Homo sapiens: one gene and its partner. Each later gene encodes a partner of the first gene's protein in a complex. Each region holds a gene or a part of one and is shown in the gene's direction. Other genes may lie near its edges.

What was found. The genes of interacting proteins can lie anywhere in the genome.
Region 2: POLR1B (region 1) and RRN3 share a complex: the UniProt entries of both Homo sapiens proteins name them as parts of the pol I pre-initiation complex.

The regions. Positions count from the first base shown.
Region 1 is NC_000002.12:112,566,201-112,573,526, forward strand, and holds part of POLR1B (DNA-directed RNA polymerase I subunit RPA2), read left to right. Parts: intron 1-557; coding exon of another isoform or gene 558-695; intron 696-1,766; coding exon 1,767-1,937; intron 1,938-2,545; coding exon 2,546-2,702; intron 2,703-6,361; coding exon 6,362-6,558; intron 6,559-7,326. UniProt on the Homo sapiens protein: Catalytic core component of RNA polymerase I (Pol I), a DNA-dependent RNA polymerase which synthesizes ribosomal RNA precursors using the four ribonucleoside triphosphates as substrates.
Region 2 is NC_000016.10:15,070,235-15,077,560, reverse strand, and holds part of RRN3 (RNA polymerase I-specific transcription initiation factor RRN3), read left to right. Parts: intron 1-910; coding exon 911-1,003; intron 1,004-2,699; coding exon 2,700-2,838; intron 2,839-4,480; coding exon 4,481-4,611; intron 4,612-6,309; coding exon 6,310-6,440; intron 6,441-7,306; coding exon 7,307-7,326. UniProt on the Homo sapiens protein: Required for efficient transcription initiation by RNA polymerase I (Pol I). Required for the formation of the competent pre-initiation complex (PIC).

The DNA.
Region 1 (7,326 bases):
GACGTTGGTTTGTCCTGTTACGACTCATGTTAACTGATCCCTTCAAAGTTGTGTTCTTTAGGTTAATTCACTGTACAGTTTCTGTTTTTCTCTGTAATAAGTAACTTGTGGAGAGATAGTTGAAAGCTATGTGGAGCCCTCTTTCTTCATATTTTCACCCACTAGTTGATGGATTATTAGCTGAATTACTATTCCATTGGTGGTTCTTTGCTGAGTTAATATTACTGTGATGGTTACCACATGGTGTTTTCCCCCACCAGCATTTTTTCTATGTTTATTAGTTGCTATTCTGTAAGGGAGGGCTTTCTTTTCTATTAGTTGTTCATTTATTTATGTTAGCGTAGATTTATAGATGCTTGTTTAATTTTGTGAATATTCTGTTACTACTTATTTTGATGCTCAGAAAGTGTATGAGATTTGATCTAGTGTACAGTTGAGGGTTTTAAGTACATTCATGTTGTGGAGTCATCACCATCTTCAGAACTTTCTCATCATCACAAATTGAAACTCTGTAACCATTAAACAATCATTCCTCTTTTTTTTTTTTTTTGAGGCAGAGTCTCGCTCTGTCGCCCAGGCTGCAGTGCAGTGGTGTGATCTTGGCTCACTGCAGCCTCCGCCTCCCATGTTCAAGCAATTCTCCTGCCTCGGTCTCCCAAGTAGCTGGGATTACAGGTGCACACCACCATGCCTGGGTAATTTTTATATTTTTAGTAGAGATGGGGTTTCTCCATGTTGCCCCGGCTGGTCTCGAACTCCTGACCTCAAATGAGCTACCTGCCTCATTAGTCTCAGATTTTATCTTTTTTATAGAGAATTTATTTTCATTCTCTTTTTTTTGGTTAGCATTGTGGAGCATCGGAGGATGAGGACACTTAAGATCTGCTCTCTTAGTAAATTTCAAGCATGCAATATAGTATTCTTAACTATAGTCACATGCTGTACATGAGATCTCCAGAAACTTAATTTTGTTGCATAACTGAAGCTTTATACTCTTTGACCAACATCTCCCCGTGTCCCCCTCCACCAAACATTCTCTCATTTTTAATGATAATGCATCTAGCTGTGAATCCCCATGAGTTCTGACACATGGGTTTGTTGTTGTTGTTGTTGTTGTTGTTGTTTTCAGGTTTCTGTAATTTAGGTTTTTATTTCTCCTTTCACCCAGGAGTTTGTTGGAGTTTTTTTGTTTTGTTTTTGAGACAGGGTCACTCTGTCACCCAGGCTGGAGTGCAGTGGCATGATCATGGCTCACTGCAGCCTCAACCTCCTGGGCTCAAGTGATCCTCCCACCTCAGCCTCCCGATTAGCTGGGACTACAGGCACGTACCACCACACTCAGGTAATTTTTTAATTTTTGTAGAGACGGGGTTTCATCATGTTGCCCAGGCTGGTCTTGAACCTCTGGGCTCAAGTGATCCACCCACTTTGGCCTCCTAAAGTGCTGGGATTACAGGTATAAGCCACCCCCGGCCCACCCATGAGTTTTTGGTTTATTAAATTTACAAATAAAACCAGTAATCTACTGTATTTTAGATCACAGAGGACAGAATTTCCTTTAGTGTATCGACACGTGCATTCATGGTGTGCTTTATCCTTAGCCTCAGTAGTTAGTGATTTGCCTACTAGCTGGGGTGAGCACCCAAGGAAGTAGGGCTTTTACCATGGCTGAGTGTGGATGAGTGGTATTCCATGGGGCATAAGACTGGCAGCGACAGCCATGGCCTTGGGACAGGTTTGTTAAACTCTGTTTTTGTTAAAAACAGGTGTTGAGAGAGAAAAGAATTCCTCCCTGGATGGAAGTGGTCCTTATACCCATGACAGGAAAACCAAGTCTGTACCCAGGATTGTTCCTTTTTACCACTCCTTGTAGACTGGTACGGCCTGTGCAGAACTTAGCATTGGGCAAAGAAGAGCTAATTGGAACTATGGAACAGGTAAATACATATGTGTGATGGATGAGTGTATGTGCTTGTTTGTATAGTATACAACTTTCAGAGACTTAACTCTTCCTTTTTTAAAAGGGTTGTTAATGTTACAACAACAGTTGGACATTTGAAAGAAAGTCAGACTTTCCACCTCCTCTATGATCAGCACAGAGCAATTTCCATGTCTGATCTCACTCCACAGAACCTGAGAGAGGGCTGGTGGTCACATTACCTGCCTCCCATCTTATCTAGCTCCCAGAACTCCTTTGTACCTGGCTCTGCCTCAGCCGTGAAGTGAAAACATTCCATTAGATTCACACTCAGTCTTTGCCTACATATTTACAGTTGCAAAATTATAGGCTTTGTGCTACTTAAAAATTTTTCTTCCTATTCCCCTTCACAATTGGTCTGGGGTAGTTTTAGAGTGAGATACGTAAAGCAAGTGGTATTTCTAACTGGTCGCTTCCCTGTGCTTCCCAGTTGATCCCTTCAGCACTCATGATGCTGGGTGGGGATGGTTTTCTCTTGAGTCTTTGAGTACTGAACTCTGAGAAATGGTAAGAGTAAATGTGTAACCAGTTGCAGTTATTTTGTGCCTTGGACATCTGCTCTTCCAGATCTTCATGAATGTCGCTATCTTTGAGGATGAAGTTTTTGCTGGAGTTACCACACACCAGGAACTCTTTCCACACAGCCTGCTGAGTGTGATTGCCAACTTCATCCCTTTCTCTGATCACAACCAGAGTCCACGGAACATGTACCAATGCCAGATGGGTAAGGAAGAGGGATGATGTTACAGTCACAATCAGGAAAGTAAACTTGATACTAGCACACTCTTTTATTGTCCTTATTTACATATGCTGACCATTTGTTCCAAAAATACAGTTTATGGCAAGTTTTTCTTTTTTCTGTGCCACAAGCAACCAGCCCAGGATCACTCATTGTATTTAGTTGGCATGTCTATTTAGTTTCCTGTAATTTATGACAGATCTTTAAACATTCTTTGTCTTTGACATTGACATTTTTGAAGAAAAAGGTATAGAATGTCCATAGATTTGGGTGTGCCTGAGGTCTTATTATTTGATTTTTTGAAGAATACAAGCAATTATAGTCACCCGCATATTTATCACTTCCAGTCCTCTTCATTCCTGCTGCAAGATTCAAGTTTTCATTGTATACAATTTTCCTTCAGCCTGATAATCTTCCTTTAGCATTTTTTTATAGTGCAGGTTGCTGGCCACAAATTCTCTTTGTTTTCATTTATCTGAAAATGTCTTTATTTTGCTTCACTTGAAGGAATCTTTCACTGGATATACAATTCTGAGTTGACAGTTATTTTTCTTCCAACACTTAAAAGTTGTTGTTACACTGTCTCTTCTTAGTCTCTGTCATTTCTAGTTAGAAGGCAGCAGTCTTCTGAATATAGTGTGTTTCTTTTTTTTTTTTTTTGAGACAGAGTCTCGCTCTGTCGCCTAGGCTGGAGTGCAGTGGTGTGATCTCGGCTTACTGCAACCTCTGTCTCCTGGGTTCAAGTGATTCTCCTGCTTCAGCCTTCCAAGTAGCTGGGTCTACAGGGACTCACCACCACACCCAGCTAATTTTTGTATTTTTAGTAGAGACGGGGTTTCACCATGTTGGCAAGGCTGGTCTCGAACTCCTGACCTCAGGTGACCTGCCCACTTTGGCCTCCCAAAGTGCTGTATTACAGGCGTGAGCCACTGCGCCCGGCCTCAAATTTTGTTTTTTTTCAGTTTAATTAAATTGCTAAACTCTTCTGTCATTATTTTTAAAAACATTGCTCCTATCCTTTTCTCTCTTTCCTCCTCTTCTATCAGTTATTCATATATTTAAACCTTTTGATATTGTTCCATAAGACATTGAGTTTCTGTTCTCTTTTTTCTTTATTTTCTTCAGATTGGATCTTTTTTTTTTTTTCCCGAGATGGAGTCTCACTTTGTTGCCCAGACTGGAGTGCAGTGGTACAATCTCGGCTCACTGCAACCTCTGCCTCCCATGTTCAATAAATTCTCCTGCCTCAGCCTCCTGAGGAGCTGGGATTACAGGCACACACCACCATGCCCAGCTAATTTTTGTGTTTTAGTAGAGATACGGTTTCACCATGTTGGCCTGGCTGGTCTCAAACTCCTGACCTGAAGTGATCTGCCTGCCTCAGCCTCCCAAAATGCTGGGGTTACAGGTGTGAGCCACTGCACCTGGCCCAGATTGGATTATTTTTATTGACCTATTATCACAGTCACTTTTTATTCTGTCTTCTACTGAATTTTTGCTTACAGTCATGTGCCCTTAACGACAGGGATACCTTCGAAGAAGTGAGTCATATGTGATTTTGTCGTAGTGTGAACATCATAGAGTGAACTTACACAAACCTAGATGGCAGAGACTACTACACACCTAGTATATGGTATAGCCTGTTGCTCCTAGGCTACAAACCTGGGTGGCATGTAACTGTACTGTGTACTGTCTACAGTTGTAAGACAATGGCAAGGATTTGTGTAGCTAAACATAGAAAAGGTACAGTAAAAATATGGGATCACCATAGTATATATGCCATCCTGCATTGACTAAAACATTGTTATGCAGTGCATGCCTGTATTTTTCAAGTCCAGCACTTCTACTTGTTTCTTTTTTTTTTCTTTTTTTTTTTTTTGAGACAGGGTATCGCTCTGTCACCCAGGCTGGAGTGCAGTGGCACGATCTTGGCTCACTGCAACCTCTGCCTCCCCAGTTCAAGCAATTTTCCTGCCTCTACCTCCTGAGTAGCTGAGATTACAGGCATGTGCCACCATGCCCAGCTAATTTTTTGTATTTTTAGTAGAGGCAGGGTTTTATCATGTTGGCCAGGCTGGTCTCAAACTCCTGACCTCAAATGATCTGCCTGCCTCAGCCTCCCAAAGTGCTGGGATTACAGGCATGAGCCATTGCGCCTGGCCTGACTTGTTTCTTTTTTTATAGTTTCTTTCTTCTCTAAGATTTCTTATCTTCATTCATTGTGGGCATGTTTTCCTTTATATTTTGAACATAGTTTTATATGATGGGTGTTGTAAAATCATTATCTGCAGATTCCAATGTCTGGGTCATCTTAGTATCAGTCTCTTTGAGTATAAGTCAAGTTTCACCATTTCTTTGTATGCCCAGTAATATCGGATTGTATTATGAACATTGCGAGGAGTATGTTTTAAACCCTGGATCCTGTTAGGGTCCTCTGAAGAGGATTGGTTTTGTTTGTTTTTAGTGTGGTGTTTGGCCTTCAATTACATTTTAATTTTTTTCATTTTATGTCTTTCCTTCTTAATACACAGTCCATCACCTGGTTCAGTGCATGTCACCAAAAATTCTCCAGGGGAAGAGGATTGGTTTTTAGTTTTCACTGGTACTTAACTTGGTGAACGTGGCAGTTGAAGTACATTCTTCAGCCTTAGGTGGGCTGCTGTGATCTGTCCCATGCATGCATAGTTCAGGAGTCCACCAAAGATTCGGACCCAATTTATATGCTGAATTTAAGGGTCTCCCTTTGTGGTTCTCTCATTTCTGAAATGTTCCCCCTTCCCAATTGTTGTCATGCTCAGAACTCTATTTCTTGGTTCTTCAAGCCAGTAAGATTGTGGGTTTCTATCTAAGTTGTAGCTGCCACACTGGGCCATAAGGCAAAAATAAATACATAAATACTTAAAAACCTGGAAATTCACCCAGTGTGTTCCTTTTGTCCAAGTAAAAATTCTTCTCAGCTTCTGACAGCTTTTGGTTACTCTCCAGTGCTGTATGTGTAGTTGGGGGTCTGCGTCTCATACTTATGTGTTGAGGGTGGTCTAGTAAGAGTAGCCCTTTATTACTGGAAGCTCTAAGTCTATAATTTTTTTAAAAATTTCACTTGTATGTATTTATATTTTAAAATCATTTTGTCGTGAAATGATTCTCTGTACTGTGAGGTAGTACACAGAGGAATCTCACCCCATGCTCCACTACTTAGAATTAAATACATATTCCGCTGTAAGAAAGTAATCTAATTACGTAATAATTCCTATCCCCTTTTCTTCCCCGAGTAGTGATAGCCTGTAATTTGCGTACTTCCTTTCTGTCCCCTTCTAAAGCTTTTATTACATCATACATGTATCCATAAACTAAGTATAGAATTGTTTGGGGTGTGTTGCAAATACACATAAATCGTATCATATTAAATGTCAGTCTGCACTTTCTCCCACTCAGCATGGTTTTCCTGGTCTGGTCACGTTGATACATTTAGGTTTACTTCATTTTCACAGCTTATGTATTAGTCTAAAGTAAGCATAACTACCATGACTATTTATTTGTTCATTTTCCTCTGATGGATATTTAGTTGTTTCCAGTGTTGCGTATCACACCTATAATCAAGATGAAAGCAGCAGAAAATGCTAAGATGTTTTTTCTCCATGTAGGTAAGCAAACTATGGGCTTTCCACTTCTCACTTATCAAGACCGATCGGATAACAAACTGTATCGTCTTCAGACTCCTCAGAGTCCCTTGGTGAGACCCTCCATGTATGATTATTATGACATGGATAACTATCCAATTGGGACCAATGCCATCGTTGCTGTGATTTCTTACACTGGCTATGATATGGAAGATGCCATGGTAAGTTTTACCAGGAAATGTTGTTCCAATCTTTTTATTTTTTAACTTGTTTGTTTACTGTGAAATCACTGAAGGAATATTTTTGTGTACCCAAGTACCTAGTATTTGGCACGTGATGTTCTATTAAATGATTAGTTCTTAGTCTAAGTTGAAAGTGGGCAAGCCTTGAGGAATATCCACTAAATATTCAGATACACGTATGTCTTGCATATTTGAGTGCATATTATGAGTAAATTTTGAAGTTTGGTTTTGGATCTATCTACCTTTTATATTTAAGTATGATTAGATTTTAAGCTATTTCTGTGTGCCTGGGTTTTTGTTTTTCTTGTTTTTTGTTTGTTTGTTTTTTGTTTTTTATTTTTGAGACGGAGTCTCGCTCTGTTGCCCAGGCTGGAGTGCAGTGGCACGATCTTGGCTCACTGCAACCTCCACCTTCTGGGTTCAAGCAGTTCTCCTGCCTCAGCCTCTCGAATAGCTGGGACTACAGGCACCCATCACCATGCCTGGCTAATTTTCGTGTTTTTAGTAGAGATGGGGTTTCACCATGTTGGCCAGGCTGGTCTCGAACTCCTGACCTCAAGTGATCCACCTGCCTTGGCCTCCCAAAGTGCTGGAATTACAGGCGTGAGCCACCGTGCCCAGCCATGTCTGGGTTTTTGTAGTTAGTATCAGTGATTTGGAAAATGTGAGGAAAGTTAAAATGTGATGCCAGTTATCCTAAACCAAGTATGATAGTCCCACCTAGTTTTATTTTGAAAATCCTCAATT
Region 2 (7,326 bases), on another chromosome or scaffold:
CAAAAAAGAGGTTTAATTGGACTTACAGTTCCACATGGCTGGGGAGGCCTCAGAATCATGGCGGGAGGTGAAAGGCACTTCTTACATGGTGGCGGCAAGAGAAAATGAGGAAGATGTAAAAGTGGAAACCCCTGATAAAACCATCAGATCTCTTGAGACTTATTCACTATCACGAGAACAGTATGGGGGAAACCTACCCTATGATTCAAATTATCTCCCACCAGTCCCCCCCCAGCAACATGTGTGACTTACAGGAGGAGTACGATTCAAGATGAGATTTGGGGCCAGGCGCGGTGGCTCATGCCTGTAATTCCAGCACTTTGGGAAGCTGAGGCCGGTGGATCACCTGAGGTCAGGAGTTCGAGACCAGCCTGACTAACATGGAGTAACCCCATCTCTACTAAAAATACAAAATTAGCTGGGCACAGTGGCACATGACTGTAATCCCAGCTACTCGGGAGGCTGAGGCAGGAGAATCTCTTGAACCTGGGGGGCGGAGTTTGCGGTGAGCCGAGATCTTGCCATTGTATTCCAGCCTGGGCAACAAGAGCAAAACTCTGCCTCAAAAAAAAAAAAAAAAGTGATTTGGGTGGGGACACAGAGCCAGACCATATCAGAGCTAGAATAAATGTTGAATTTGTTGAGGCTGCCTGGCATAGAGCATCATGTGATAGTTGTCGATTTTATATAAGTATGTAGTAAAAGGGGCTTGGTTTATTATATTTAAATTCCTTCATGACCTAGGTCAGTTTACAGGCTTGCACCATAATTGTGTATTGTGTTGGGGTGTGATATAAGGCACTAATCTGGACACCTTGAACATGCGTATATCAGATGAATTTCCATCCCAAAATAACATAGTTGTATTTTTTAAATCCTTTTATTCTTTTTTTTTCTCCCTTTGTTATAGGTGAATGCATCCCGGCAGGGTATTGAAGATGCTGAAGAAACAGCAACTCAAACTTGTGGTGGGACAGATTCCACGGAAGGATTGTTTAATATGGTTAGCAGTTTATTAATGAAAGTGGAGATGAAGTTTATCATAAAGGGTGGAAACAGCTAGTGCTGCTCATCTTTGTTAAGGCTTTAGATTGAAAGAATTAAAATAGTTCAGCAAACTTGAAAACGATTCCTTATATGAGTAATTTGCTGCCATGTCATTTAGCACTTAGCATAGTTGGTCTATTTCCAAGGCTTTGAATTTGGGTTTGGTGAAGTATGTTTCACTTTTGTTCTTGTAACTTTCAGTGTTTGTTTTTGTAAGCCAGATGCTGTCTGTGAGGGCGTGGTTAATAGAAAAGCATACCTGTTTAATTTCTGCATTTTACCACTTGTACACTTTATAGCATTACTTCTTTTGGGTGGTATCTGAAGTTGGGTTCAGTGGAAGGAGAGTCTGAGACAGGGATTCAGGTGCCCTTGGGACAGAGGGTGTCAGGGAGCAGAAGAGGGCAGGGGAGCTAAACGGGGGCCGGGTCTCACTTGGGAGGTCGCTACAGCCTGCTCCCACCAGGCATTCTGGGGCATGGATTGGTCTACAGAGTTTGTTCCCAGCTTGAGACCAAGGAGATGTCCTTTTCTGATGCCTTGTCAATCAGTCATTGGTTCTAAGGGGGAGGGGCTGGAAAGAGTGCAAGGGTGGTCCTGGCTCCTTTCTGCTCAGGGCAGCTCTGGAGAAAGTAGGCGGCTGTGAGCTATTGGCCGCCAGTACTCACAGCAGTGGGGAGGTGGATATCCCGACCTGCAAAAGGGGGCCCGGCACCAAAAGCACCCGCCATGGTGGGCACCAGGAGCAGAGGTAGGGGGCATCTGTGATTTTTGCATGGATAGGTCTCATTGGGTCTTCTCAATGAGAATCAGAAGCTGGTGCTGTGAGTCTTGGCTTTTATTTTAAATTTCACTGGTGGTTCTGATTCACATCCCTGAATGAGACCCCTGCCTGGAAAGGTGTCTGCATTTCTTTCTTTCTTTTCTTTCTTTTTTAATTTGAGACAGGGTCTCACTCTGTTGCCCAGGCTGGAGTGTGGCAGTGTGTGATCTTGGCCCACTCCAGCCTCGACCTCCTGGGCCCAAGTGATCTGCCCACCTCAGCCTCCCCGAGTAGCTGGGACTACAGTGTACCACCGCACCCAGCTACTTTTTTTCTATTTTTGTAGAGACAGGTCTCACTGTGTTGCCCAGGCTGGTCTCAAGTTCCTGAGCTCAAGTGATCCTCCTGCCTTGGCCTCCCAAAGTGTTGGTAATTATAGGCGTGAGCCACTGTGCGTGGTCCATTTCTTTGTTTTAGTTTAGTTTTTTTTTTTTTTTTTTGGTGGGGCACAGAGTCTTCCTCTGTTGCCCAGGCTGGAGCACACGAACTCGGCTCACTGTAGCCTCCTCCACCTCCCAGTTCAAGCTATTTTCCTGCCTCTGCCTCCTGAGTAACTGGAATTACAGGCGTGCACCACCATACCTGGCTAATTCTTGTATTTTTAGTAGAGACAGAGTTTTACCATGTTGGCCAGGCTGGTCTCAAACTCCTGACCTCAAGTGATCCCCCCACCTCTGCTTCCCAAAGTGCTGGGCTTATAGATGTGAGCCGCTTTCCCCAGCCTCTTTGTTTTATCTTTTAAGGGAAATAATCACTTATGACAGTTTTCCTACTAAACCACTTTGACATTGAATTTTTTAATGTTAGTATTTACTTTTTGTCTTCAAAGGATGAAGATGAAGAAACTGAACATGAAACAAAGGCTGGTCCTGAACGGCTCGACCAGATGGTGCATCCTGTAGCCGAGCGCCTGGACATCCTGATGTCTTTGGTTTTGTCCTACATGAAGGATGTCTGCTATGTAGATGGTAAATCACAGTAGCTACTGTTTATTGAACACCTGCAGTGTACCTGGCTTTGTGCTGGGCATTTTCCATCCATTATCTCTAGTAATACTAAAAATCCTGTAAAAATATCTATTGAGTATGAGTTTAAGATGATTTAAAGAGGTCAAGTTACTTGCCAGTCACATAGCTTGAAAATGGGACTGGGATTCTGGCTGAGTTATATTTGTCTTCTGTCTTTTCACTGATTGTTGTATTGAAAGATTATATATGGAGTTTGGCCAGTTTTAGATCAAATTACGCTCAAGTTGCTGAATGCACTGAAGAATGATGTAGGGTGCACTAATATATGGTGCTCCGTTATGTATTGAGTTTAGAGGGTCTTTGCCTGGCACCATTGTTGTGCCAGTGTTAGTACTATATGTGCTTCTTGACTTCATGGAACTTTAAAGGCTTTGCCAGGCGAAAACAGAATTTTTTTCCATTCACATTGCTAAGATTTAAGATGAGCTCAGTGAGTCAGAATAATAGAACTGGAATCTGAGTTGACTGCATTACTGTTTTAACGGTCTTGCTGTTATAAAAATAATACATGTTGATTAGAGAATTTGGAAACTACAGGAAAGGATAAAAACAATTTAAATGGCCACATTTCTACTCTTCAGAGAACCATTGTGAGCATTTTGAAGTTTGACTTTTTTCCCTTTTCTGTTAGCGTCTGTATATGTAGGAGAGTATTTTTTAGTGAATTTGGGTGTCACACTAAACACAAGTGTTTCATAATCTGCCCTTTACATGGATGCTGAAGATAAACATTTTCTCATATCATTGCCTGTTTTAAAATAATTGTTATTGAATCCCAGCACTTAGGCCAAGGTGGGAGGATCACTGAGGCCAGGAGTTCAAGACTAACTATCCTGGGCAACATAACAAGACCCCATCTCTAAAAAAAAAAGTCGTAATAATAAATGTTGTTGGTCACATGGGTTTAACTGTCTTTTACTGTTTTCACCATGATAAGTAACAGTTATAATGAACATACTTGTGCCTATATATTCAGCTGTTTACTAACAGTAAAATGATCGGATTAGAGGTCTTTTGCTACACGAATGATAGAATTGCTCTTCAGAAGGGTTTGCATTTCTGACCTTGCCACAGTGTGTGAGGTGAGGGCCTGCTTCCTTGCAGGTGTTAGATTATTATATTCAGAGGAAAATCTGTGTAAACTAAAAGTAGCATTTTGTTTTAATGGTATTTTAATGGATAATGTCTGTCTTTCTTTTTTTTTTAAATAGCCACGGTCTTACTCTAACCCAGGCTGGAATGCAGTCGCACAAACATGGCTTACTGCAGCCTTGACCTCCTGGGCTCAAGCGGTTCATCCGCCTCAGCCTCCCATGTAGCTGGGATCACAGGCGTGCCACCATGCCTGGCTAATTTTTTGATTTTTTGTAGAGACAGAGCTTCCCTGTGTTCCCCAGGCTGCCCTTGAACTCCCGGGCTCCCTCTCACTTTGGCCTCCCAAAGTGCTGGGATTGCAGGCAGGAGCCACTGTGCTTGGCTGGATAATGTTGTTTTTTAATGGTGTTGTGTTTATAAAAAATATGGCAGATGAAACTTGAAAATATGTCTTTATAAAAACTGAGATGCCAGATTTTCTCCATAGGTAAGGTTGATAACGGCAAAACAAAGGATCTATATCGCGACCTGATAAACATCTTTGACAAACTCCTGTTGCCCACCCATGCCTCCTGCCATGTACAGTTTTTCATGTTTTACCTCTGTAGTTTCAAATTGGTGAGTAAGAATGTGATTAACATTATCTTAGCTTACTTTGTTTTTGCCCAAAAATTTTCCCTAAAAACTGGGGTGGACGGAGACCATGAAGTAAATAATTCTTTTCTTTGAGCTTACTTGCTAGTCTGCTTAATAAAATCGCATTCTCCTTTCTTTTTTTGTTTTCTTTTCCTTTCTTTTTTGAGACACAGTCTCGCTCTGCTGCCCACTGCTGCAACCTCCACCTCTTGGGCTCAACGGACTCTCAGTCCTTACCCTCTCGATAGCTGGGACCACAGGTTACCATGCCTGGCTAATTTTTGTATTTTTAGAAGAGGTGGGGTTTCGCCACGTTGGCCATACTGGTCTTGAACTCCTGACCACAAGTGATCTGCCCGCCTCCTGCCCCGCAAAGCGTTGGGATTACAGGTGTGAACAACTGTGCCTGGCCCACGTTCCCTTCTCAGTACACTTGGAGAGAAAACAGATTGCTGCCTGCCAGCCCAGCTAGGTGCTCCGAAAATGTCATCCTGCCTTTTGGTCACTAGGTGGTGCTCTTCCCTTAAGCCTTTCTCTATTAAAATCTCATATGGGGTAATTAACTGTATTTCCTTTATTCTTTCCAAGGGTTGAGTTGTAACTAGCCCAAACCAACTTATTAATCTAGAATTTTAAAAACTTTAGGCTTTGTCTTTTCTTCTTCTTCTTCTTTTTTTTTTTTTTTTGGTGGGGGAAAGAATGTAGAAGGCTTTTCCTTCTCTGCAACGATTTTGTGGCTTCCTAGAGATCAGGAGAGTGTTGGTCATGGGAAAGAAGGTTGAATTCAGTCTGCCCACATGGGTGTGCCTAGCTTTAGAACAGCGCTATTTAGGAGAAGTTGGAAGTTACACCCTTTGGTGAGAAGCTGTGTCTGTTTTTTTCCATGATTGGCATAATTAACTCAAATACCAGCTGTGCGTTAGTCCGTATTTCTGTTCGTGGTTGAGTTCAGTGTGTCCAGAGACCGGAAGGTGCTTTGCACTCACAGGAGTGCCCATGTGGAGCTCCATGGGATGTGAATTATTGTTGGTCACCAGTTCTGGCTGACATTGGAATCACTTGAAGAGTTTTTGTAATATGTGGATTCCAAAGCCCTGTCACAAACCTATTGAATTTGTACCTCCCAGGTTGAATTTTTTGTTGTTTTTTGTTTGTTTGTTTTTTGAGATGGAGTCTCACTCTGTCACCCAGGCTGGAGTGTAGTGGCATGATCTCAGCTCACTGCAACCTCTGCCTCCTGGGTTCAAGCGATTCTCCTGCCTCAGCCTCCCAAGTAGCTGGGATTACAGGCACCTGCCACCATGCCTGGCTAATTTTTGTATTTTTAGTAGAGACAGGGTTTCTCCATGTTGGCCAGGCTGGTCTCGAGCTCCTGACCTTGGGTGATCCACCCGCCTCGGCCTCCCAAAGTGCTGGGATTACAGGCGTGAGCCACTGTGCCTGGCCCCGGGTTGATTGTGATGCTTAGCTAGGTTTGGGATCCACTGGATTATTTAACACCCGAGGTGCCTTTTGTTTTTAATGATATTCTCTCAATGTGTTTTAAAAATGAAGCCCATGAGATAGTTATGAGATAGTAGAACTTTTCCCTACATTGGTGAAGTAAAAATCTTGGGATTTTGATAGCCAGATTATCTTAGGCATTAAAAAAGATCACACCGACGCCCTCTCTTTTTATAGGGATTCGCAGAGGCATTTTTGGAACATCTCTGGAAAAAATTGCAGGACCCAAGTAATCCTGCCATCATCAGGCAGGCTGCTGGAAATTATATTGGAAGCTTTTTGGCAAGAGCTAAATTTATTCCTCTTATGTAAGTAGCCTAATTTTCCGAATACTTTTTAATATCATGCTTTAAAAAGAGTATAGCATTGTCTCAAGTCAGAAATATCTCCCATTTTTTTTGGCATGTTTTTAAAGTGAATAAAATCCCTACTCTGTGCAAGATGTTTATATTTCTAAGTGGTGATTTTAGAATAAAGTGTCTCCTTTTTTATATATAAAACCCTGTATGTAAGGCTTTTGTCATCTCTTTTGGTTGCACTTAAAGATCCATTTGTTTTGTGGATAGAGGACAGTGTTGTATACTGTTTTGATTCTTTTTGTAGGTTTGTCATTTTTTCATTTGCATTCCAAATCTATTGTATCTGTTAAAGCTGAAGAAAAACCCTTTTAAAGGTAATAGACCTATCTAGGAGGCCAGTTTCTTCCAGTGGCCCATAAAGATACCTTTGGACAAGGATGCTGTTGAAACCCTTCCCCAACCACAAAATTATTCACCATAGGACTTGACTAGGATGCATCAGGGAATACTGAAGTCCACCAGACTGTCTTTCTCTTGAGAGGTGTTGGTGAACGTGTCCTGTTTGGCCAATCACCTTAAGAGGGGTGCCTTTGAGATGGTTAGGAGAACCTGCTTTCCATCCCTTGGGACGTTCTTAGGGGCTCACCTGTTCCTAGAAGGTCAGAGCTACTCTGCCTTGTAATTGGAAGGTTGTCTTCCTACGCACCCATCCTTATCCTTCCTTTCTTTGCTTTTCCTCTGTACCCATGGGTATTATTTAAAGAAACCTATGAACTTACTTAGCATGGTTTGTAATGAAAGGCAGTTGTGTGTTTTTATGTTATTCTGGTTTTTTTATGATGTGTAAAGTTGACTTGAATTTTTCTTTTCTCTAGTACTGTAAAATCATGCCTAG